Regions from separate parts of the Homo sapiens genome. Here region 1 is linked to region 2. The links come from fine-mapping of genetic effects on gene expression. A gene starts in region 2. The other region holds a variant in brackets. All regions are shown on one strand. Distances are from middle to middle. Region 1 overlaps F11-AS1 (F11 antisense RNA 1). Region 2 holds the start of F11-AS1 (F11 antisense RNA 1).

Evidence for each region. PIP is the estimated chance that this variant, and not a neighbour inherited with it, causes the effect.
Region 1: its variant is fine-mapped to the expression of F11-AS1 in testis (GTEx, PIP 0.99).

Annotation. Positions count from the first base shown.
Region 1 is chr4:186,420,641-186,431,884 of GRCh38, reverse strand. All of the region lies in intron 1 of F11-AS1 (F11 antisense RNA 1), which reads left to right. Among named protein-coding and RNA genes, the nearest start is that of F11-AS1, 75 kb to the left of the region's middle. RefSeq lists an enhancer at 3,512-4,051. The variant G/A (reference allele first, on the strand shown) is at 5,384.
Region 2 is chr4:186,495,784-186,507,027 of GRCh38, reverse strand. F11-AS1 (F11 antisense RNA 1) reads left to right here and starts at 5,970. Exons shown (of 4, transcript NR_033900.1): 1 at 5,970-6,183. It also overlaps the pseudogene RNU6-1055P.

The DNA.
Region 1 (11,244 bases), 75 kb after region 2:
ACCTACTGAATAACTGCTGAATCCATGCATGAGTTTTTGATCTATTTATTAGAAATTGATAATGTCATTTGAACAATCATGCCAATGCTAATGATACTTAATATTAATTTTCTAAGTTAAGTAGCCGGAATATCTAAATGCCTCTCCTTGGCGATTACTCGATGAGCGCCTGTCCTTCCTCCACTCTTCCAGCAGACCTGCCTTTTGGGGCTGATGGAAATATGCATATTAGATTATCTGCAGAAACTGGCTCAGCACTACAAGGAGGTAAGAACATTCAGAACCAATAAATGTTAAAATACGAATGGGTACTAGAGTTTCTTACTCCAATTCCTCATTTCAAGATTAGAAAACAAGAGCCCTGGGAGGCAGGCAGTTTTCCTGTAGTAACCCGGATGTCAAGGGCTGGCGTGGGCTTCTCCAAGTCCAGTGCTCGTTTGTAGAACAGTTTCTGGACTAATTTGAGTAATTGATGCAGAGCCTATTTTGATTCTCTCTAGCCAGCGTGCATACGTGTTCCTCACTAAGCACATTTTTACAGTAGATATTTTTTAAATATCAAGGCAGGTGGATAACCTGTGGACAGGAGTTCAAGCCTTGCCAACATGGTGAAACCCCATCTCTACTAAAAATACAATAATTAAGTAAATAAATTAGCTGGGCATGGTGGCACCTGTAATCCCAGCTACTCAGGAGGCTGAGGCAGGAGAATCACTTGAACCTGGGAGGTGGAGGTTGCGGTGAGCAGAGATTGTGTCACTGCACTCCATCCTGGGTGACAAGAGCAAAACTCCATCTAAAAAAAAAAAAAAAAAAGCCGTGCGTGGTGGCTCACACCTGTAATCCCAGCACTTTGGGAGGCCGAGATGGGTGGATCACCTGAGGTCAGGTGTTCGAGACCAGCCTGACCAACATGGAGAAACCGCATCTCCATTGAAAAAAAAAAAGATTCAAAATTAGCCGAGCATGGTGGCGCATGCCTGTAATCCCAGCTACTGGGGAGAGTGAGGCTAGAGAATCACTTGTACCCGGGAGGCGGAGGTTGCAGTGAGCTAAGATCGCGCCATTGCACTCCAGCCTGGGTAACAGGAGTGAAATTCCTTCTAAAAAAAAAAAAAAAAAAGAAAAGAAAAAGAAGAAGACAGTTGTTCCAAGCATTCAAGCATTGGGTGTCTGAGCAAAGGAGAGATGCAGCGCCTGCCGGAGCACACTTCCCTGGGTCAGCGCAGGAGCCTCTCCCTGTTCTTGCGGCTTCCACTCCACTTCGTCAGCCACGGCCTGATCCCGACTGGGCCTCTAATCTGGGGTCTATATTTTCACTGGCTTATTTTTTTTTTTCCAGTGACTCAGTCTGAGCAGCAAAATTCTAAATACTGTTGACTTAATTGATTATCCAAATAGGGAAAATGCAATAATGATAGAAATAATGTCATTACCTAGGTCATGCTAAGTGCAAAGTTATTACTGATCAAACGATCGGCCAAGAAAAAATAGACTGACTATAGAAACTCCATATGTTTTTAGATTGGCATTTGTTTCTTCTTTCCTCTGGAAGGAAAACAAAAACTAAGTATGGGTAAAAGGGCGGATCATGAGGTCAGGAGATCAAGACCATCCTGGCTAACACGGTGAAACCCCGTCTCTACTAAAATATAAAAAAATTAGCTGGGCATTGTGGTGGGCACCTGTAGTCCCAGCCACTCAGGAGGCTAAGGCAGGAGAATGGCATGAACCCAGGAGGCGGAGCTTGCAGTGAGCTGAGATCGTGTCACTGCACTCCAGCCTGGGCAACAGAGCGAGACTCCGCCTCAAAAAAAAAAAATCCCATAAAGAAAATAACACCTGATTTATCCACACAAAGTTGACATAATCAGGGTTACACTGCTTTTACAGTTGTGCCAGACTACTCTTTTTTTTTTTTTTTTTTTTTTTTTGAGATGGAGTCTCACTCTGTTGCCCAGGCTGCTAGAGTGCAATGTGCAATGGCTTGATCTCGACTCACTGCAATATTTGCCTCCCAGGTTCAAGCAATTCTCCTGCCTCAGCCTCCCAAGTAACTGGGATTACAGGCACACGCCGCCACACCCAGCTATTTTTTTTTTTTGTATTTTAATAGAGATGGGGTTTCACCGTTTTACCTAGGCTGGTATTGAACTCCTGAGCTCAGGCAATCCACACGCCTCGGCCTCCCAAAGTGCTAGGATTACAGGAGTGAGCCACCACTCCCAGCCAGTGCCAGACTACTCTTAGACATCAGCGACAGGGACAGCAGCTTTTCTGGGACGGCAGTGAACCGCAATGCCCTTATTCCTTCCACGTGCTCCTCGCAGCATCAAGGAAACGTGCCTGGGGCAGGGAGGAGTGTGGAGGATGCCTAGAGTCCTAGCTGGGAGCTGGCAGGGTACCTTACAGGGAAAACCAAGATACACAGCCTGCATTACACCAGGATCATCAGTCTGTGCTACTTTAATGCCTTGTTTTATCATCTTCAGGTGAGGGAAAACGAGATTTTTTTTTTTTTTTTTTGGAAATTTGAGATAATTTTCTCCATCTCTTCTTATGTGTGTTTATTTATTTATTTTATTTCCCAGAAAAAGACAGTCATTATTCTTGGCTCGCAGGATATAATAAAGATCAAGGTCTTTTATTGCCTTACCTTCGATTCTGGTGCACAAGTGTTCGCAGAACCAAGCTGGGTCTCGCTGCGTTTTCTTGGGGCCCAATAATAAGAAGCAGACAAACTAGGAAAGAAGGGAATTTATTGCTGTAACCGGATGCAGGGAGAAGGCCAGAGAGAATTCCACCAGACCAACTCAAAGTGTTACAATTTTCTTAGTGCTAATATAGGTTGAGGTTATGCGCCTGCGTGCAGTATAGCATTGCCTAAGTCTATTGGTAACGAATTTTGTTTCAACTAGAAGGTCAGAGGCAAAGAAATGCTTCCTAAGTTCGATTGAGCTGTGAGGCCCCAGTACCTTCAAGGCCCGTCTACTGTGGCACCGGAGTGATCATTTCTACTTCATCTCCTTTACAGCTTGGCCCAGAGAGCTACCTTAGACCCTCCAATGAATCTATTCAAACAGCTGCCTCTGTTACCTTGACTCGTCTCAGATTTTGTCGACCCGAGACGGGTCCTGGCACTAGGAATGTAAAACTGTCTATTATTTCAGCTTGCTCCAGGTTAGGGAGAAGGCCATGTAAGGCTCCTACTGACCGTCTTATGTTTCATTTCTAGCTTTGACGTCTGGGCACTGATTTCCCTAGGTTTAACTATTCGTTCCATGTGACGGCCGTGCTGTGGAAATCTATCTGTGTAACTGGAGCGCTCTGCAGGCCTGTCTGTGTGACCATCAGGAGGCCTGTCTGTGTGACCGTCATGCAGGCCTGTCTGTGCGACCGTCAGGAGGCCTGTCTGTGTGATCGTCAGGAGGCCTGTCTGTGTGATCGTCAGGAGGCCTGTCTGTGTGACCGTCATGCAGGCCTGTCTGTGTGACCATCAGGAGGCCTGTCTGTGTGACCGTCATGCAGGCCTGTCTGTGTGACCGTCAGGAGGCCTGTCTGTGTGACCGTCAGGAGGCCTGTCTGTTCGACCATCAGGAGGCCTGTCTGTGTGACCGTCAGGAGGCCTGTCTGTGTGACCGTCAGGAGGCCTGTCTGTTCGACCATCAGGAGGCCTGTCTGTGTGACCGTCATGCAGGCCTGTCTGTGCGACCGTCAGGAGGCCTGTCTGTGTGATCGTCAGGAGGCCTGTCTGTGTGATCGTCAGGAGGCCTGTCTGTGTGACCGTCAGGAGGCCTGTCTGTGTGACCGTCATGCAGGCCTGTCTGTGTGACCGTCATGCAGGCCTGTCTGTGTGACTGTCAGGAGGCCTGTCTGTTCGACCATCAGGAGGCCTGTCTGTGTGACCGTCATGCAGGCCTGTCTGTGTGACCATCAGGAGGCCTGTCTGTGTGACCGTCAGGAGGCCTGTCTGTGTGACCGTCATGCAGGCCTGTCTGTGTGACCGTCAGGAGGCCTGTCTGTGTGACCGTCATGCAGGCCTGTCTATGTGACCATCAGGAGGCCTGTCTGTGTGACCGTCAGGAGGCCTGTCTGTGTGATCGTCAGGAGGCCTGTCTGTGTGACCGTCATGCAGGCCTGTCTGTGTGATCGTCAGGGAGAATTGGCCTGCCGCGCAAGGGCTGGTGTGAGTTTACCTTTGAGAAAGAGCAGGAAATGTTGAGTCATTTCACACAACCTACAGAGATAGCACACTAGGCTGCGGCTGGGTATTTAGTCCCTGCAGGACAGTGAGCCTGGGATAGGCCTGGCCAGATCTAGGGGTCCTGGTACCACATTTGACCCACACAAACCCCATCTAGAGTGATCCCTGACATCATATAATTGGAGGGACATATTTTCCCCAACAAATGCCTGGCATCTCGCTAGAGACGCATGTGTTTGGATTATTTCCCACGCTTTTTCTTGCGGAGTGGCTGTGTGATTTGGATCTTGCAAATTGAGGGTCCGGGGTGTGCTGTCACCTCCGTAACTTAGCTCATGGAGAGATTCCTCGCCTGTCAACTTAGGATACCGAAGTCGAAAACTTCAGAGTTTCCTTCCAGCTCTGAAATGGGAAGATTTTATTTTTTTAAAAGAAAGTGTTCACCTCACTAAAAGGTTTTTCTAGGAAAAATAATGCTGAACTGGCTCTCTGGGAGGGTAGGGCAGAGGAGAGGAAATAAACCCCTCATTTGCAGTGTTTGCCGATTACCATGGTATAAATGCCCCCTCTGGTCAATTTCAGGCTGCCAACATGAAGACACTGGATGCGGAATCAGGAGGAGATGTATACAGCTCAGTCTCCAAAGCCAGGACAAGCCAGCTCCAACACACTACTGGCTGAATCTCACCAATCGTTATAGTTTTGTTTTTTGTTTTTTTAAATGTATTTAAGCATTTTTAGGTGTTTTAAATTTTATGTGTGTATTCTAGGAATATGTACTCAGATTCTTTCATTAGGCATGTGTTATTAACAACATTCATCTTCTTAAAGGCTGAACCAACTTTGCGCGTTTTATCAACAGATATTCACTGAGCACCTAATATTGCCAGGCTGTGCTCAAGGCAGTGGGATTCATCAGTGAACAATACAGACAAAAATCACTGACCTAAATGGAGCTTGAAGTTTATATCTAAATCATTCAAAGATTCTGTGGTGGAAAAGAAGTTAGAAATCTTTCAGCTGCAAAACATAAGCCAAAATACAACTCACCTTTGGAATCAGAGAACTTACAGGTTCATAAAATTGCGAAGCCCAGATGTGCACCTGAGGTGAGACTTCGTCCAGCTTCTGTCTGTGTCACTAATCTTTCCTGCTTTCAGCGGCATCCCTCGCAGGCCC[G/A]TGTTGTTCCCAACTGGTGTTCCCACCTGGCGGCAAACTGGTGACTGTAGTTACAGATCTTCAACATCACACTCAGGAGAAGAAGGAGATTGCTTTTCAGGAGCTCCTGCAAGCCGGAGAATAAAAGCTCTTATTTATTCAGAAGCCCTAAAACATACCACCTTGGCTATAGACTATTTGGACATTTCTAAGCAAATCTGTCTGCAAAGGTGCTGAGCTGTGTTGATCAACTGAAGCCCGTGACGTCTCATCCTTGCAGTTGGAGGTAGGTCTTCTGTCCACCCAAATCAGATGGATGAAATAGGGAAGGCTGTTCTCCTCAAGGAGAAGCTAGTTTGAAAAAAGCAATAAGCAGGCTAGGCACAGTGGCTCACGCCTATAATCCCAGCACTTTGTGGGGCCGAGGCAGGCAGATCACGAGGTCAGGAGGTCGAGACCGTCCTGGCTAACACAGTGAAACCCCGTCTCTACTAAAAAAATACAAAAAAATTAGCCAGGCTTGGTGGCAGGTGCCTATAGTCCCAGCCTCTCAGGAGGCTGAGGCAGGAGAATGGCGTGAACCCAGGAAGCAGAGCTTGCAGTGAGCCGAGATCAGGCCACTGCACTCCAGCCTGAGTGACAGAGTGAGACTGTGTCTCAAAAAAAAAAAAAAAAAAAAGAGAGAAAAAAGCAATAAACAGATGCTAGATGGTAAAAACAGCAAATGTCCATCACTGCCACCTTCAGCACACCTGAAATGGGAGTTATCACACCCCCCAAAATGAACAGAGATTTACTCTTTCTCCCTTTCTGGTCAATGACAACAAAGGCATGGCCTCTGGGTCTCAGAGGAGCTTATAATCTAATAGGCAATCTTGGACTGGCCAAAATAGTCAATACTTTAAAAAATACTAACTGGAGGTTAGCACATTTGGAATCCATTATAATTAACATGCTTTTCTTAATTAGTCCGAGGGAAAAATAGAGAACACATTGAGTAAGGATCAGAGGTTCTTCTTTTCACATTTAATTTTTTTTAACAATTCTTGGAAATTTCTTGGTGGCATTCAGGTTTTTTTTTCTGTGAATCAACAAGCTAAACTGAGAGTCAACTGTTGTGAAGGCAAGTCAGAATAAACCTGACAGTAAACACACTATATGGATGCTTGTGGTGGTTTCTGGAGAAATATGTAAAGGCTGAAATGTTTGATGTTTGAGAAAAAATCATTGTCTTTAAGGAAGGGCATGAAATATGAGAAATATATCAGTATGATCTGTTTTAAGTTAATAATGACTATGTAACTGGTTTCTAAGTTTTAAGGTTTTTTCTCCAAAAATATCTACACATAACTGATTTTACATCATATTTTTCACTTCTAAGTGAATATCTACAAAATACATGTAGGCTAAGTTTCATCATTAAAATGTATTAATTTCTCTGCTTCAGCTGATCATGAAAACATGAGATTGACAAAGATAGTCCTTGGCTTTGAGATGTAATTATCCTTAAGTTACCAAGTACAAATCTCGTTTGAATATGATTACCTGCTTCTTAATGTGATTAAGTTTCAGTCTGGTTCGTGACGTCACTAGTCTCATCTAGCATCTAGATGTACTTTTATATTTTTAATCTAAATCCCACCAGAGTCTAGCTGTAACTTAATACTGTTTCTCCTTGTTATATCCTCGAGGGAAATTTAGGATAGGAATTAACTGAGAGATTTCAGTTATGATTCCTGATGACATGCAGTCTTTTCTGTAAGGAAATTTCTACCCACTGTCCTTGCTGGGGTAGACGTAGGTTGCTTGGTTTGCGTCCCTTTGAGTCTTAGCCGCTGTGAACAGAGGCGTTGCATCTGCTGCTGCATCGCAAACTACCCTAAAACTTAGTGGCTTAAAACAACCATTGTATTAAATTTCATCATTCTGTGGGTCAGAGATTTGGGTAGTGCTCCTGTGGGTGATGCTGTTGCACGTGGCATTGACTCAGGATGGTGGATGGTATTCAGCTGATAGCTGATCTGGTCTGAAGGGTCCAAGATAGCTTCACTCCTGTAGCTGGCACCTTGGCGGGGGCATAGGAAGGCAAGACTCAGCTGGACTCCTCTCCTATCTGTGTTGTCCAAGAGCCTTTTCACAAGGTCTTTCTAGCAAAGTGGCAGCTCATGGTTCCAAGGGCAAGAGTGTGGTTCTACCAGAGACCCAGATAGAAGTTGCGAGGCTCCTTCTGACCTAACCTTGGAAGTTCTTCTTCTGAGTTACTTCTCTTGTATTCTATGCATCAAGCAAATCTCAAAGGCAAAGCCAGTGTTAAGGAGAGGGAAATCAGACTTCATCTTTCGATGGGAGAAGAAAAGAGTTTGCAACTGTCTCTATTCTGCCACTGGCAGAGAATCCATAGGTTTGCTAAGGATACAGAGCCACATTGAAAAGGTAAACTGTGAAAATCCCATTCATCTGTCAATAATCTGGGAGGGAGAAAATGATAAGAGGGGCCAGTGAGCCATGATAAAGTGGGGCACAGGTGACCATGTGAGGCCAGTACAAGTGGCTGTGGGGAAGAATCCACTCTGAGGAAAGGGAGAGAGCAGTCATAGGTGGGGAGCAGATAATCTTGCACGAGGGAGAGGGAGACAGAGGGGGTAGCTGCCTAATTCTCAAGGGCCTTTTGATCCTTTTTTATCTTTAAGATAAACCTTGCTATGCTGGAGATTACTTAGGTGGGCCAGGATTTCTTGAAACCAAAACTTTACTGAATCACCTCTTCACCATCTGTATGCCGTGCATTTGCTGAGTAAGTTTTGACTTTTAAAACAAAATACTAAATATTACTGCATCTTTTGCAATAATAAAATTTACTTTTACTTCTCAAAGTATTCCCAAGATGGAATAATAGTTCATGAACTCTACAACCATAACATGCTGAAAAATCACAGATTTAGTTCATTCTATGCCAAAATATATGGGTAAACATGGAAAAACTCAGCTGATGTGTAAGGATTTTTCTACTCAGTATCGAACATCTAGCTATTTGAGCACATGTTGGCTGATTGTCACCCGCTTCGTCCTTCCATGCTAAGAGTGGGTGGCAGGAGAACAAGCTGGACGGTCTAAGCCCACACTCACAGGAAATTGACCCATGACCTCGTGAGTCCAGTTGCACCTTGTTTCAATTGTATGATGGTTATAAAAAATGTTAGAAACTGGGGCAGGCACGGTGGCTCACGCCTGTAATCTCAACACTTTGGGAGGCCTAGGTGGGCAGATCACGAGATCAGGAGTTCAAGACCATCCTGGCCAACATGGTGAAACCCTGTCTCTACTAAAAATACAAAAATTAGCCGGACGTAGTGGTGGACACCTGTAGTCCCAGCTACTCAGGAGGCTGAGGCAGGAGAATCGCTTGAACCCGGGAGGCGGAGCTTGCAGTGAGCCGAGATTGCGCCACTGCACTCCAGCCTGGGCGACAGAACGAGACTGTGTCTTAAAAAAAAAAACAAAAACAAAAAAAAAACTTAAAAACTGATTCTTGAAGACATAAACTATAAAACATTAGCATTCCCTACATTTCATAATCAAACGTTCCACTTTCCTTTCTTTAAAAGCATAATGCCATTTAGATTTTTTAAAAAGCTAAAACTTTAGGGAACTATATGATCAATGGGAAAAATTTAAGTATTTTCTAAAAAGCACTGGATCTATTTCTAAAACAGATTTTAGTCTCCAACTAAAAATTCATGTACACATCAATATCATATCATTCAACAAATATGCTGTCACCCTGTAAAATTCTATAGAATAATTTGATTTTAAAGTCACCTGAGTGGTTAGACCTGAGTCTTTGAAATTGGATTTTTTTTTCCTTGTGAGAAGCACAGAAGTTTGTATCCCACATATAGCCAGGCTAGTGAAGAGGGAAAACAGTTATGGATCTTGTTAAAGCTGATATAAACATAAGCTGATCGTTCTGGCCAGAATCAAAGTTGGCTTACATAGTAGCAATAAAATAAACATAGCACGGCCCTAAACCTAACCTCTTCTATTGAGTGAGAAGTGATGATTTTCCCATGTTTTAAAATGAGAGAAACTTATAGGAGGGTCAATCACCATTGCTGAAAGTGTTTGTTCCTTTTTTGGAGTCTGATGTAGGCACAGAACAAGTGGCCAACTCTGGGTATTTTTAAGTAGTTGTTTGGGGAATTGCCTAAGGAAATTTTCAACACTGAATACCCCATTTTTGTTACAAGGAGAAATGAAGACATAGACCTGTATTTATATATTGTTGCTTCCTTTCACATCAGAAGGAACCATTGATTTTTCTCCAGCTCAATGCTGATGTCCAATTTCAAGCATTAAATTTGCTTATAATTTTGAAATTTTTCAATCTAAAAAAAGCATATAAAAAGTTAAGGAATACATTGTTCTGTGAGGGCGTGGTGGCTCACACCTGTAATCCCAGCACTTTGGGAGGCCAAGGCAGGAGGATCACTTGAGGTCAGGAGTTCAAGACCAGCCTAGCCAACATGGCGAAACTGTGTCTCTACTAAAATACACAAAATAGCCAGGCGTAGTGGTGGGCACCTGTAATCCCAGCTAGCTACGCGGGAGGCTGAGGCAGGAGAATCACTTGAACCCAGGAGGCGGAGGTTGCAGTGAGCCAAGATCACATCACTGCCCTCCAGCCTGGATGACAAAGCCAGACTCCATCTCAAAAAAAAAAAAAAAAAAAAAAGAATAATTGGCAGAGATTTTTATAGGATGAATAAAATGCATTCTAAATCAATACCTAAATCATAGATTGGAAGGTCAGAACAAATCACAAATGGCTTGGATATCATCTTCTACTTTGTTTTATTTGTTTGAGACAGGGTCTCGCTCTGTTGCCCAGGCTAGAGTGCAGTGGCGTGATCCCGGCTCACTGCAATCTCTGCCTTCTGGACTCCAGTGATCCTCCCACCTCAGCTTCTCCGGTAGCTGGGACTACAGGCAAGCATCACCATGTCTGGCTAATTTTTCTTTTTCTTTTTTTTTTTTTTTTTTGGTAGAGGCTGGGTCTCACTATGTTGCCCAGGCTGGCCTCAAACTCCTGGGCTCAAGCAATCCTCCCACCTTGGCCTCCCAAAGTGCTGGGATTACAGGTGTAGGCCCTGCCTCAGCTCCTACCTTGAAGGACAGCATGTTCAAGTAAGTAACAATGTATTCAGAGCCCTCTCTGGAAGAGAAATCACTGCTTTTATGAAACCTGAGTTTTCATTCTGATTTATTAGATACCACCCCAACTTAACATTGAAAGAAATGCTTATCTTTTCCTACACAAGAGCAAACTTGGAGATGAAATCAGGTCATGTGTTGTTTTATTTGCCCCATGCTTAGTTTATCACTTCCTGGAAATTTTTTTCCATGCATGTGTATGTTGAGCATTGGCCCATGCAGAAGAGGACGGTGTCTTTTTTGCTTCAAGAAGGTCCTTTTCTGCAACTTTAAAAGTATTTAAAGCAGAGGTGTGCAGCCACCGTGGAGGCCTGGTCCTCAGAAGACGGGGCCAGTCCCTGCAGCAACAGCAAAAACAGGAGAAATCTGCCGGGGAGGCTGAAGCCCTGGAACAATACTTAACATATAATGGATTTGAGCCGCTGGGTAGCAAATGAAATTGAAAATTTCTGTGGATTATGCTGCTTCTGCATCTGCTTTTTGGACAAAGATACTGTCATTTTCCATCCTATGATTTGACATTTAATTAAACTGAATGTTACCCTCATATTTGCACCATGCTGGGAGCACTGCAATTAGTTCTTCAAGAATTGTCCTACAGCTAGACAGATGTTCCCTGACTTACCGTGGTTTGACTTAATTTTTTGACTTTACGGTGCTGCCAAAGTGAT
Region 2 (11,244 bases):
GGCTTGATGAAGTAGGTGCCCTGTGTGGCGAACAGCTGTGGGCAGCATCTAGGAACTGTAGGCGTCCTCAAGAGCCACAGGCAGCCTCTAGGAGCTGAAAGTGGCCTCAGGCACACAGTTGGATGAACACAGGGACCTCCATTCTGCAACCACAGGAAAACGAATGCCACTAACAACCTGAGTGTCGGAGCAAATGCTTCCCCATTTGCGCCTCAAGTGAGAATGCCGCCGGCTGACATCATGATTGCTGTCTTGTGAGAGCTGAAGCAGAGGACCCAGCTAAGCCTGATTCCTGATGCTTGCAAAATGCAAGGGAGTAGATGGGTGTTGCTTTAAGCCGTGAAGCTGGGAGCAATTTGTTATGGAGCAATGGATACCCAATACATTAATAGAGGATAAAATATCTTTAGGATACCAAGAAATTGTTGATATATTCTTCTGGATCTTGACAGAGATAACTTTCAGAGATATGCTCTTTTTTAGAGATTCCTAGATGATCCCCCATTTATTTTTTTCTGAAATACTAGCTTTTCCATGGATTCCATGTAGGTTACTCTCCACTTTTCTATCCTAGGATTTGTAGGTGCTGTCTAGGTGTTGAAAAGATGGGACTGGAAATGGGAGAAAGAAACCACCGTCTGTCATTTTCACATAGCAATACAGTAGAGAGAGATAACTCTACTATTTGGTCTGTGCAAGCTCTAAAAATTTGAGGCTGATGGAGGGAGGGCAGGAATAGAATTGGTGTGGAAAGGGCAATAATAGGGGCATGGATTGAGGAAGGGGATACAGACATACAGCTGACTTTTTTTTTTTTAAGAGATGGGGTCTCATTCTGTTGCCCAGGCTAGAATGCAGTGGCATAATCATAGCTCATTGCAGACTTGACCTCCTGGGCTGAAGCAATCCTCCTGTCTCAGCCTTCCAGATAGCTAGAACTACTGGTACACACCACTACACCTGGCTAATATATAGCTGATTTATGCATAAGTGTAGAGGTGCTTCAACTGTGGCTGAGGGAAGTTATTCTGTGCCATCCTATAAGAGATAGACAGCACTGAAAGATGACTAGCAGATAGAAGGCAAATAGAGAACCTGCTCACTGCAGCTTGGCAAGAGTTTAGAATGTTACAGAATGAACCATGGACCAAACAAAAATGACCAAAAGAATCTGCACAGGGGCCGGGCGAGGGGGCTCACGCCTGTAATCCCAGCACTTTGGGAGGCTGAGGCGGGCGGATCACGAGGTCAGGAGATCGAGACCATCCTGGCTAACATGGTGAAACCCTGTCTCTACTAAAAATACAAAAAATCAGCTGGATGTGGTAATGGGTGCCTGTAGTCCCAGCTACTTGGGAGGCTGAGGCAGGAGAATGGCATGAACCCGGGAGGCGGAGCTTGCAGTGAGCCAAGATCGCACCACTGCACTCCAGCCTGGGCGATAGAGTGAGACTCCATCTTAAAAAAAAAAAGAATCTGCACAGGTCTATCACCTGTCCACAGGAAAATCGTTAATTAGACCTAAGTGCACATTTACAAAAATGTATAAGCAAGTCATTATTGCATGCAAGCCTAAGCTGCATGGCAATAGTGATTTGGCCTCAGATGAAGAGGCCTGGATGTCAGGGGGAGCAGGTTAGATGTAAGGGTCTTGGAGAGTAGAATGAAGCAAAGCCCTCTGCTGACACTCCCAGTGGGCAGGCACCTCCTCCTCTCATTTCTGGGTTGGGTCCTGGATACATATAATTGCACTATGGGGTTCTTTTCTTCGGGGGGTGGGGACAGAGTCTCCCTCTGTCTCCCAGGCTGGAGTGCAGCGGCGTGATCTCGGCTCACTGCAATCTCCACCTCCCGGGTTCAAGCAGTTCTCCTGCCTCAGCCTCCCAAGTAACTGGGACTACAGGCACACACCACCATGCCCAGCTAATTTTTGTAGTTTTAGTAGAGACGGGATTTCACCATATTGGCCAGGCTGGTCTCAAACTCCTGACCTCGTGATCCGCCCGCCTTCGCTTCCCAAAATGCTGGGATTACAGGCATGAGCCACTGTGCCCGGCCACACTATGGGGTTCTTAAAGAAACCTTCTAAAATAGCATAAGTTTGATTCCTTTTATTAATTCTGTTCTCCAGAACCTTGGGCCGGTTGCTACAGGTACTTCGGTTTCAGAAAACAAACACTTTCAGCTTTTCCAAGTGGTCTGTTTCTGATGGACTGTCCTTAGGTAGGATGTGCTGAATTCTGGCCAAGATTTTTCTCAGGCAAGCTTCATCTTTGTTATTATTATCGCGAACACCATGCACAGTCTGACACTAGGTGGTCTGTCGTATGTTGTTAATGTTAACCTTGCCCCCCTGATTTTCTTGGCATTTTGGTTAGAAGTTAAAGGAAAATGGTTTGAGGATGTTAGCTGGATGTCAGCTGGATGTCTAGCATCCTCAAACCATTCTCCCTTCTTTATACACAGCAGCTGAGTAATAGGACTCAGCTGCCTTCTTTATACCATTGATGGTCCTTAAACCAGAACCATCAACGGTATAAAGAAAGCAGCTGAGTCCTATTACTGATTCTAATCTGGTTTATTGGACTGATTTAAAGGGATGGGCAGATATAGAGATACAGTGTGAACACAGTGATTTCTATCATGTTTGGGTGCTGAATCTTTAGAGGCACATACATAGATTCCTCCAGTGTCCTGATAAGAATGCCAGGGTAGCTCAGGGAGATGGATCGGAATGGGGAACAGCTGTTGAAGGCCCGAGCTACTGAGCTTGGAGGAGAAGATACTTGATTGGCATTTAATAGACTTCTTTTGGAAAAAAGTGAAGGCTACACAGGCAAGGTTTGTATCATATGGCTTCATGGAGCTAGTGAGTGAAATGTTATGAAGAGCAGAAGCCTTTGACAGAATTGCAGCCAAACAGATAAAAATGTAGGCCATGGTGATTAATTTCATGTCTCAACTTGGCTGGATCACTGTACCCAGATATTTGGTCAGACGTTATTCCAGATGTTTCTGTAAGGATATATTTAAAATGAGACTAACATTTAAATCAGTAGGCTTTGAGGAAGCCAATTCCCCTCCATTATGTGGGCAGCCTTCATCCAGTCAGTTGAAGAAGGGCTTAAGAGAAAATCGACCGCCCTCTGAGAAAAGGGGATTCTGTCAGCAGGTGGCCTTCAGACTTGAACTGCAGAACCAGATCTTCCCTTAAAATACATCTCTTTAGGCTGGGCACAGTGGCTCATGCCTGTAATCCCAGCACTTTGGGAAGCCATGGTGGGAGGATTGCTTGAGCCCATCTGAGACCCGTCTGGGCAACACAGTGAGACCCCATCTCTAAAATAAAAGTATTAAAAAATAATTAAAAATTATTTCAAAAAACTCTCTATATGTGCATGTGCACACACACACACACACACACACACACATTGTGTTAAGGCTCTCCAGAGAAACAGAAGCAATACAATGTACAGAGAGAGAGAGAGATCTATTTTGAGGAATTTGCTCACAAGACTGTGGAGGCTAGCAAGTCCAGCATCTAGAATGGGCCAGCAGGCTGGAGACCAAGAGGCACTGCTGCAGTTAACGCTGGCAGCCATCTGCTACGGAAGCACGTCTTGTTTGGGGGATATCAGCCTTTGTTTCATTCAGGCCTTCAGCTGCTCAGATGAGCCCCCCCAACATTATGGAGGGAAGTCTGCTTTACTCAATGTTCACCCATTGAAACGTCAGTCTCATCCAAAAACACCCTCACAGGAATATCCAGAATAACATTTGACCAAATATCTGAGCATCCTGGTGCAGCCAAGCTGACATGTGAAATTACCCACCACGTGCATCCCATTGCTCCTGTTTCCCTGGAGACCACTAACACACTGACCAATAGCTTTGGTTTCTGGCAATGGGCTTGAAAGTTTGGATAACAGAATCACTCATCAAGACATGGTTAGTAAGCTTATAAACTAAGAGTGCTAATTAATATAGAATTACATAGAGGATAAAGTGTGTTTGCTTTGTGCATATAGTTAAGGACCCTGGGTATTAGTCTCCATTATTAATTATACTCACCTCATCACTAGGGACCATCTAACACGCGCCAGGGCCTGGGACTATGACGAGAACAAGGCAAATGCCTGCCTTCATGGAACTCACATTCTTCTTTCTGTTGTGATCTTACATGTTGAAATAGGTGTCTGTTCCTCTTTCCTTCAAGTGTGCTGTGATTTATAAGTGTTTCCTTCTCCCATCCTAGCTTTATCGAGATATAAAGATTGTGTATATTTACAGCGCACAATGGGAAGTTTTGATATATGCACGCACTGTGAAACGGTTACCACAGTCAAAGTAATTAACATCCATCACCTACATAGTTATTGGTTTTTCTTGTGGTGAGAACATTTGTCTCTTAACAATTTCAAGTATACAATAATACATTATTATTGACAGCACCGTCTCATACATAGATCTTCAGAACACACTCATCTTATCTGACTGAGACTATCCTCCCTTTGACCAACCTCTCCCCATGCCCCATGCCTCCAACTCCTGGCAATCACCATTGTACTCTGCACTTCGACCTCTTTGAAACAAGTAATTCTTTCAAAGAACTCCTGCACTGGTCAGCACTGGAAAAAGTGTTGCTAGTTAACTAGCTGATGTGTAGCAGAATGAGTTGCATTATCTATTAGAAAATATGGAGATTGTAACAGGAGGTATTTCTTCTACTTCCTAAGGGCTGAAATGTTCCTAGATATTTACCTTGAATATGTCATTTTAATTTTCTGAACATAGTCCAGTTATATGTCGCTGCATAATGCTGGGGACAGCAAGTAGATGGCTAACACAGGAGAGCCATTACCCATGGAAGAGAGATCTCTGTCTTCTGTACTAAAAGGGCAACGACATTTCCTCTATTAGATGTGGGCTCTCTTCCTTTCCTTGCCTTGATGTTTCTTTTTCTTTATTCATTCCCCCTTTGGTTAATTTTCAGAAAAACCATATCTCCAAATATGTAAACTGAATAAACTGGTGTCCTATGTTTGAGATAAAAGTTATTTTTTGTCTTGTAAGCTTGTTGTACTTTTTCTCCATTGCTGTGTAACTAATGCCCCCTGGATTTAGTGGCTTCAAACAGCACACTTTGATCCATTCACAGTCCCTGTGGCTCAGGAGTCCAGGCGTGGCTTAGCAGCATCCTCTGGCCCAGGTTCTCTACAAGGCTGCAGTCAAGGCTGTGGCCAGTGCTGCGGCCATCTCACAGCTGAACGTCGGGGATCAGGGGACGCATTCACATCCAGGCTCGCTCATGGGACTGCTGACAGTCCTCTGGTCCTCTCTGGCTGGTCCAGGGACATCATTTCATTGTTATGCGGGTCTCCCCGGAGGCCACTCACACCCAAGATGGAAGCCACATTCTTTTGTAAGAGTGACCCCTTACTCTGCCATATTCTGTTCATTAGAAATGAGTCACTAGGTCTAGCCCACACTGGGGGAAGAGCTTCCACTGCAGTGTGGCTCCCAGGAGAAAGGGGATAGTGGGAGCTCACTGAGAAGCAGCCTACCACATTTGTTATTATTTTCAATGTCTAACAAACCATGGATCCCTGTCAATTCTTCAATTTCAAATATTTTCCCTTAATCACCCCTTACTTTCCATTTCACTGCCAACACCTCGATCTCTGTCTTCCTCACCATAAGGCAGATTCGTAACAGCTTCCATAACTCGCCATGAGCCCCGCAGAGCCCTGGTTCCCCGCTGCTCGTTATTATTCCTGAAACGCCCAGTACCACTTCCTGTTCTTACTCATTTATTTATTTGGAACACTTCAGGAATTCGCGTGCCGTCCTGGCACAGGGGCCCTGCTGATCTTCCCTGTACCGTTCCAATGTTAGTCCATGCGCTGCCGAAGCGAGCACGCTTCCTGTTCTTGTTCACGAGCCTGCAACGCCCACCGTTGCCTGCTTCCAACTGTGCCTCACGTTCCTTCCAACGGCGCCTTCCATCCCAGCTGGGCGGGGCTTCGCCGTGTTACCTTCTCAACATGGCGAGCTTGCTGGACGTCACGTCGCCTTCGCCTTTTCCGCTGCGGACTCTGCTCACCGACCTCCTCAGTAGAGCCGGCCCTGCTCACTACCGCGCCCACGTGTCCTGTTGTGCTTCATTCCCACAGGCCGCATAAGGTAACATTTACATATGTTCTGGCTGCTTGACTGATTCTAATTTCCCTGTCGATGCTTTTCTTCAACGAGGCTGAAACCCGTGTAACTTCCTCTATTTCTGTGCATATGCGGCATCTAACAATATTGAGCACATAATTCCTCAAATGCTCGTGGCTTCAGGTGAAGATAGAGCTCTGGGCTTCCTAGCTGCCTAAGCCAAAAAAAAAAAAAAAAAAAAAAAAAAAAGCTAGGAAGGAGAGATAACATAAAAGCTAAAAGAAGGACTATTTTGAGCCTGGGCGCAGTGGCTCACGCCTGTAATCCCAGCACTTTGGGAGGCCAAGGCAGGTGGATCACCTGAGGTCAGGAGTTCAAGACCAGCCTGGCCAACTTGGCGAAACCCCATCTCTACTAAAAAATACAAAAAATTAGCCGGGCGTGGTGGTGGGTGCCTGTAATACCAGCGACTCGGGAGGCTGAGGCACGAGAATCGCTTGAACCCAGGAGGGGGAGGTTGCGGTGAGGCGAGATGGTGCCATTGCACTCCAGTCTGGGCAGCAGAGAGAGACTCCGTCTCAAAAAAAGAGAGGACTGTTTTGAGATATTTCCTAATAATTCTATCTCAAAATGTACAGAGACGGACATACTACGATTGTTTTTAGTAATGCCACATTTTTCTATTATTTCTTCTTTTTAGTCATTCTATTTCTATGATAGACATAGAGAATGATATCTCAACGAGATGATTTTGTCCCCAAAGAGATATTTGGCAGTATCTGAAGACATTTTTGGTTTTCACAGCTCAGGGGAGGGAGGGTTACTCCAGGGACCCAGTGGGTAGAGGCCAGGGACACTACAATGTATAGAATAGCCTCCAACAACAAATAATTACTTGGCCCTAAATGTGAACGATGCGGAGATTGGAAACCCAGCTTTATCTCGGGCACAGGAGTGGTGTAGCAAAGTCAGGGCGAGCCTGGATTCTGAAGTCACAGCGCTTGTGTTCACATCCCAGCTGTGCCATTCACTAGCTGTGTGACCTTGGACAAGTTACTTAGCATCCAGGTTTCCTCTTAAGTGATCGGAGTAATAGAACTCACCATTAAGCGTTGTTGGGAGGATTAGATGAGTTAATAGTTGTAGAGGGCTTCAAGCAGTGTCTGGAACATAATAAGAGCCATCACAAGTGTTTGTGGAGTGAAAACCCCTTTGCAGGAGTTCTGTGTGATGTAAGTGGAAGAAATCATCCCTTCCGGTGATCTCCCCTAGTCACGATGGAGTAGAAAACCTGAGCAGAATCTCATGGGCAGAGAGTAGCCTTAATTGGCTGCATCAATCCCTTGTGGCTGAATGACAAATTCATTGTTATTACCTTTGGTCTCACCACCATCTGCAAGTTGGAAATTGTAGCTAGTTTTAATTCAGCGTTAATGTGTCAACTGAACATTCTGGCATTTCTCTGAGGGGATCTAATTTGACGATGTAAAAAAGGAGGTGAACCAGCTCTTTTAAATAAGAGCAGGCTTGCAGGTGACTAACATGCTCTTTAGATTTCAGACCAGGAGAGCCACCCATTGTTAGTTACAGCAACCAGGTCCAGCACAATGGAGAGACCACTCAGAGGTGCCCACACCATCAGGACAGGAGCTATGCAGAACAAAGACACTCCCTTCTGAAAGGGACCATGTTCTGTGGCTTGCTCCAGATTTTTAATTTACAAAGCAAGTGTGTGTGTGTGTGTGTGTGTGTGTGTGTGTGTGTGTGTTCAAATCACTCATCAGGTTAACTTGACATCTGAATTGCAATCCTGCAGTGTGCTTTTGCAAGTAGATGAATTTCCCCTGCATCAGAACAGAATTTTCTTAGGTGTAGGTTTTATGTTATGATTCTTTTTGGGAGTTGCAATCATAGGAAAATTAGGAGGACTAAATCAAAAAGTGTTTTAAAAAGCAGATAACTTTCATCACTTGATAATACATACATCTGGTTACATCTTAGTCTTTCCTAATTCAACTTAAGAATGAAGCTTGTAAAAGTAATTGGCACCTGGCTGCCTCTGCTTTTCATTTAAGTCTCCATGCTGGAAGTCAGGATGGGTACGTAACTGACAAATAATTAATTTGCTTCTTAATTATTTACATCAGTTTCCCACTGTCCTGTAGAAACACAGAGAGACTCTGGGAGCAGCTAAAATATGTATTTTCAGGGTCTCCTTACGATTATGCTAACAAGTCTTATGGTGTCCAGAGCAAACATTAGCCAGGTGCGGCGGCTCACACCGGTAATCCCAGCACTTTGGGAGGCTGAGGCGGGAGGATCACTTGAGCCCAGGAGTTCAAGACCCTGTCTTACAAAAATTAAAAAAAAACTAAAACCATTAATTGGGATTTCAGATAACAAAACATAATTTAAGGAAAAACAATAGCACAATACTAAAAACCTGTAATATTGTTCTCTAAGAAGTGACATTGGTTGGTTATAAGCAAGTTTGGGTTTGAAGCATGTGAGCTCGTGGTATTAGTTAAAATTTCATGTCCCCTTCAATGCCCTTCCATGCAAGACTCCTTTGAGACCTTCACTGCAGGTGCTATGAAAAGAAAATATTCTGTTTGCAGCAGAATAGCAAAATGAATGCTGTGCACATAATTTTAGTGCTTATTTCAGATTTAAGTTATAGTTATTGTGTATTTTATTCATGTTGCTTTATGTGAACAAAAATAAAATTATTCAACACTAGTTCCAATATAATTATATAATTTTTTACTTCCAGTAAAAGTAATGGCCCATGTTTGAGAATGAAATCTTAGCGAGGTGAAACTATAAGTCTCTCTGATAGTCTAATTTTCTAGTTAATAATTTTTCTCCATAAAAAGCTAAAACTTAAAAAAAATTCCAACTCTTTTTTCACGGAAAACATATAAATTTTTAACATTTGAAACAGAAGAAATACAGGCATACGATTGAAATTTCAAGTGTAATAGGAGTGTTGCCAGGAAAAGGTGTTCCAATCCAGACCCCAAGTAAGAGTTCTTGGATCTTGTGCAGGAAAGAATTCAAGGTGAGTTGCAGAGTGCAGTGAGGAGAGAGAGTTTACTGAAACCTACCCAGATACAAAGTAGGGCATCCTCAGAAAGCAAGAGGAGGAACCCCTCATCTTTGTCTTAAGTTTTTCTTATATAGGGGTCTTATCTATGTAAAAGCTAAGCTACATTATGTCTACACGCCAGTGGGCTGACGGTGTGACAAAATTTATTCCTCGTTGGTTTAAAGAAAGCTGTCCTTGGCACTTTAGTGCACAAACACACCACAGCATGACTATAATTATCTTTAAAAGCATATATTGCTATGTGATATTGGGACATTGGGACATTTTGCTGTCATAAGAGTTTGTCCTTGCAGGCATTAGGCGTTTTTCTCAGCTATTAACATTCTATGACCATGGGTGGTGACATGGTTTGGCTGTGTCCCACCCATGTATCCCCCACCCAAATCTCATCTTGAACTGTAGTTCCCATAATCACCACGTGTCATGGGAGAGACCCAGTGGGAGGTAATCGAATCGTGGGGGCGGTAACCTCCATGCTATCCTTGTGATAATGCGTGAGTTCTCACGAGATCTGATGGCTTTATAAGGGGTTTTCCCCCACTTCACACTTCTCCTTGCTGTACTTCTCCTTGCTGCCACCATGTGCAGAAGGACGTGTTTGCTTCCCCTTCTGCCATGATTCTACATTTTCTGAGCCCTCCCCATCCCTGCGGAACTGGGAGTCAATTAAACCTCTTTCTTTTATGAATTATCCAGTCTAGAATATGTCTTTATTAACAGCATGAGAAGAGGCTAATACAGGTGGTAACTGGCAAGGAATGTGCCTCATTAGGTTTAAGATGGAGTTGATTTTAAAGTGGTGTCACCCTGACTCTCCTAGGCTCCTGTTTCCCTAACAGGAGGGTATGCATTCATACGTATTGTTAGATATCCGTTGTGTCACTTGAGCAATCTTGAAGGTCTTTCCCTATCAACATAGACAGCTACTGTATTTCCCAGTGAACACCTACCTTTTTCATTGTATGGATATTCCATGATTTTAAACCAATCCTTTACAAACAAAACTTTAGATTTTTTCTGGTTTTTACAATGACTAAAAATGACACAGTGACTTTGCTTGTCCATATTCCTTTCCTAGTTGCGAGTGTATATGTAAGATAAATGTGCTGAAGTAAAGTGGTATTTGAATTGAAAATGATAGTTTTATTCAACATTATATTCAAGTTTCTAGTTTTACACCTTTGCCCACACATCAATCTTTTCAGTTTTCGATGATGTGATCTGCAAAGAGGTTTTAACGGCAAAAACCACAATTACTTTTGCACCAACTGAATACATTGTTTTCATTTTTCTAAATTTACACAGAATCCTTCCACATATTAATTAGCCATTTTCATGCCTTTTAATTTTCTGTTGAATTTTACCTCTCTAAATTAACACTTTCCTGTCACGTGTTTCAAATTTGAGAGCAATGTTATGTTTTGCTTTATTTTGTATCTTGTCTGTCCTCCATATCTTTTCCTTTCAATGTCTTTAATCTTTTTCTTCTTCCTCTTTGCTAGCATTTCAGATCTTCCCTTGCTGACACTGACTTGCTGGCAGCTGATCATTCTGTTCCTGGGTGTTTCTAATGGTGTTTTGTCCTTCCTTTGCTTTATTTTCTCTCCAATTTCTCTTTTGACCTATTTTATCTTTAATTTTTGTTTGATTCCATGTTCTGTTTAATTTCTTCTAGAGCACAAAACATGTGTTGAATATATAATTCTTTGCTCCTTTGTATGTTCCTTCCTGAATGTTTTTAAGCGCTAATTTGTATATGTTATTCCCTCCTGCAATGTGTTCACATATATACTAGAAACAATGACTGTCTTGTCCTGCTAGTGCTTTAAACCCAGCAGCACAGCAAAATTGCCTTGGAAGAATATTTATTTATTTATTGAGACGAGATCTTGCTATGTTGCTCAGGCTGTTCTCAAACTCCTGGCCTCCAGCCATCCTCCCATTTCAGCCTCCCAAAGTGCTGGGATTACAAGAGC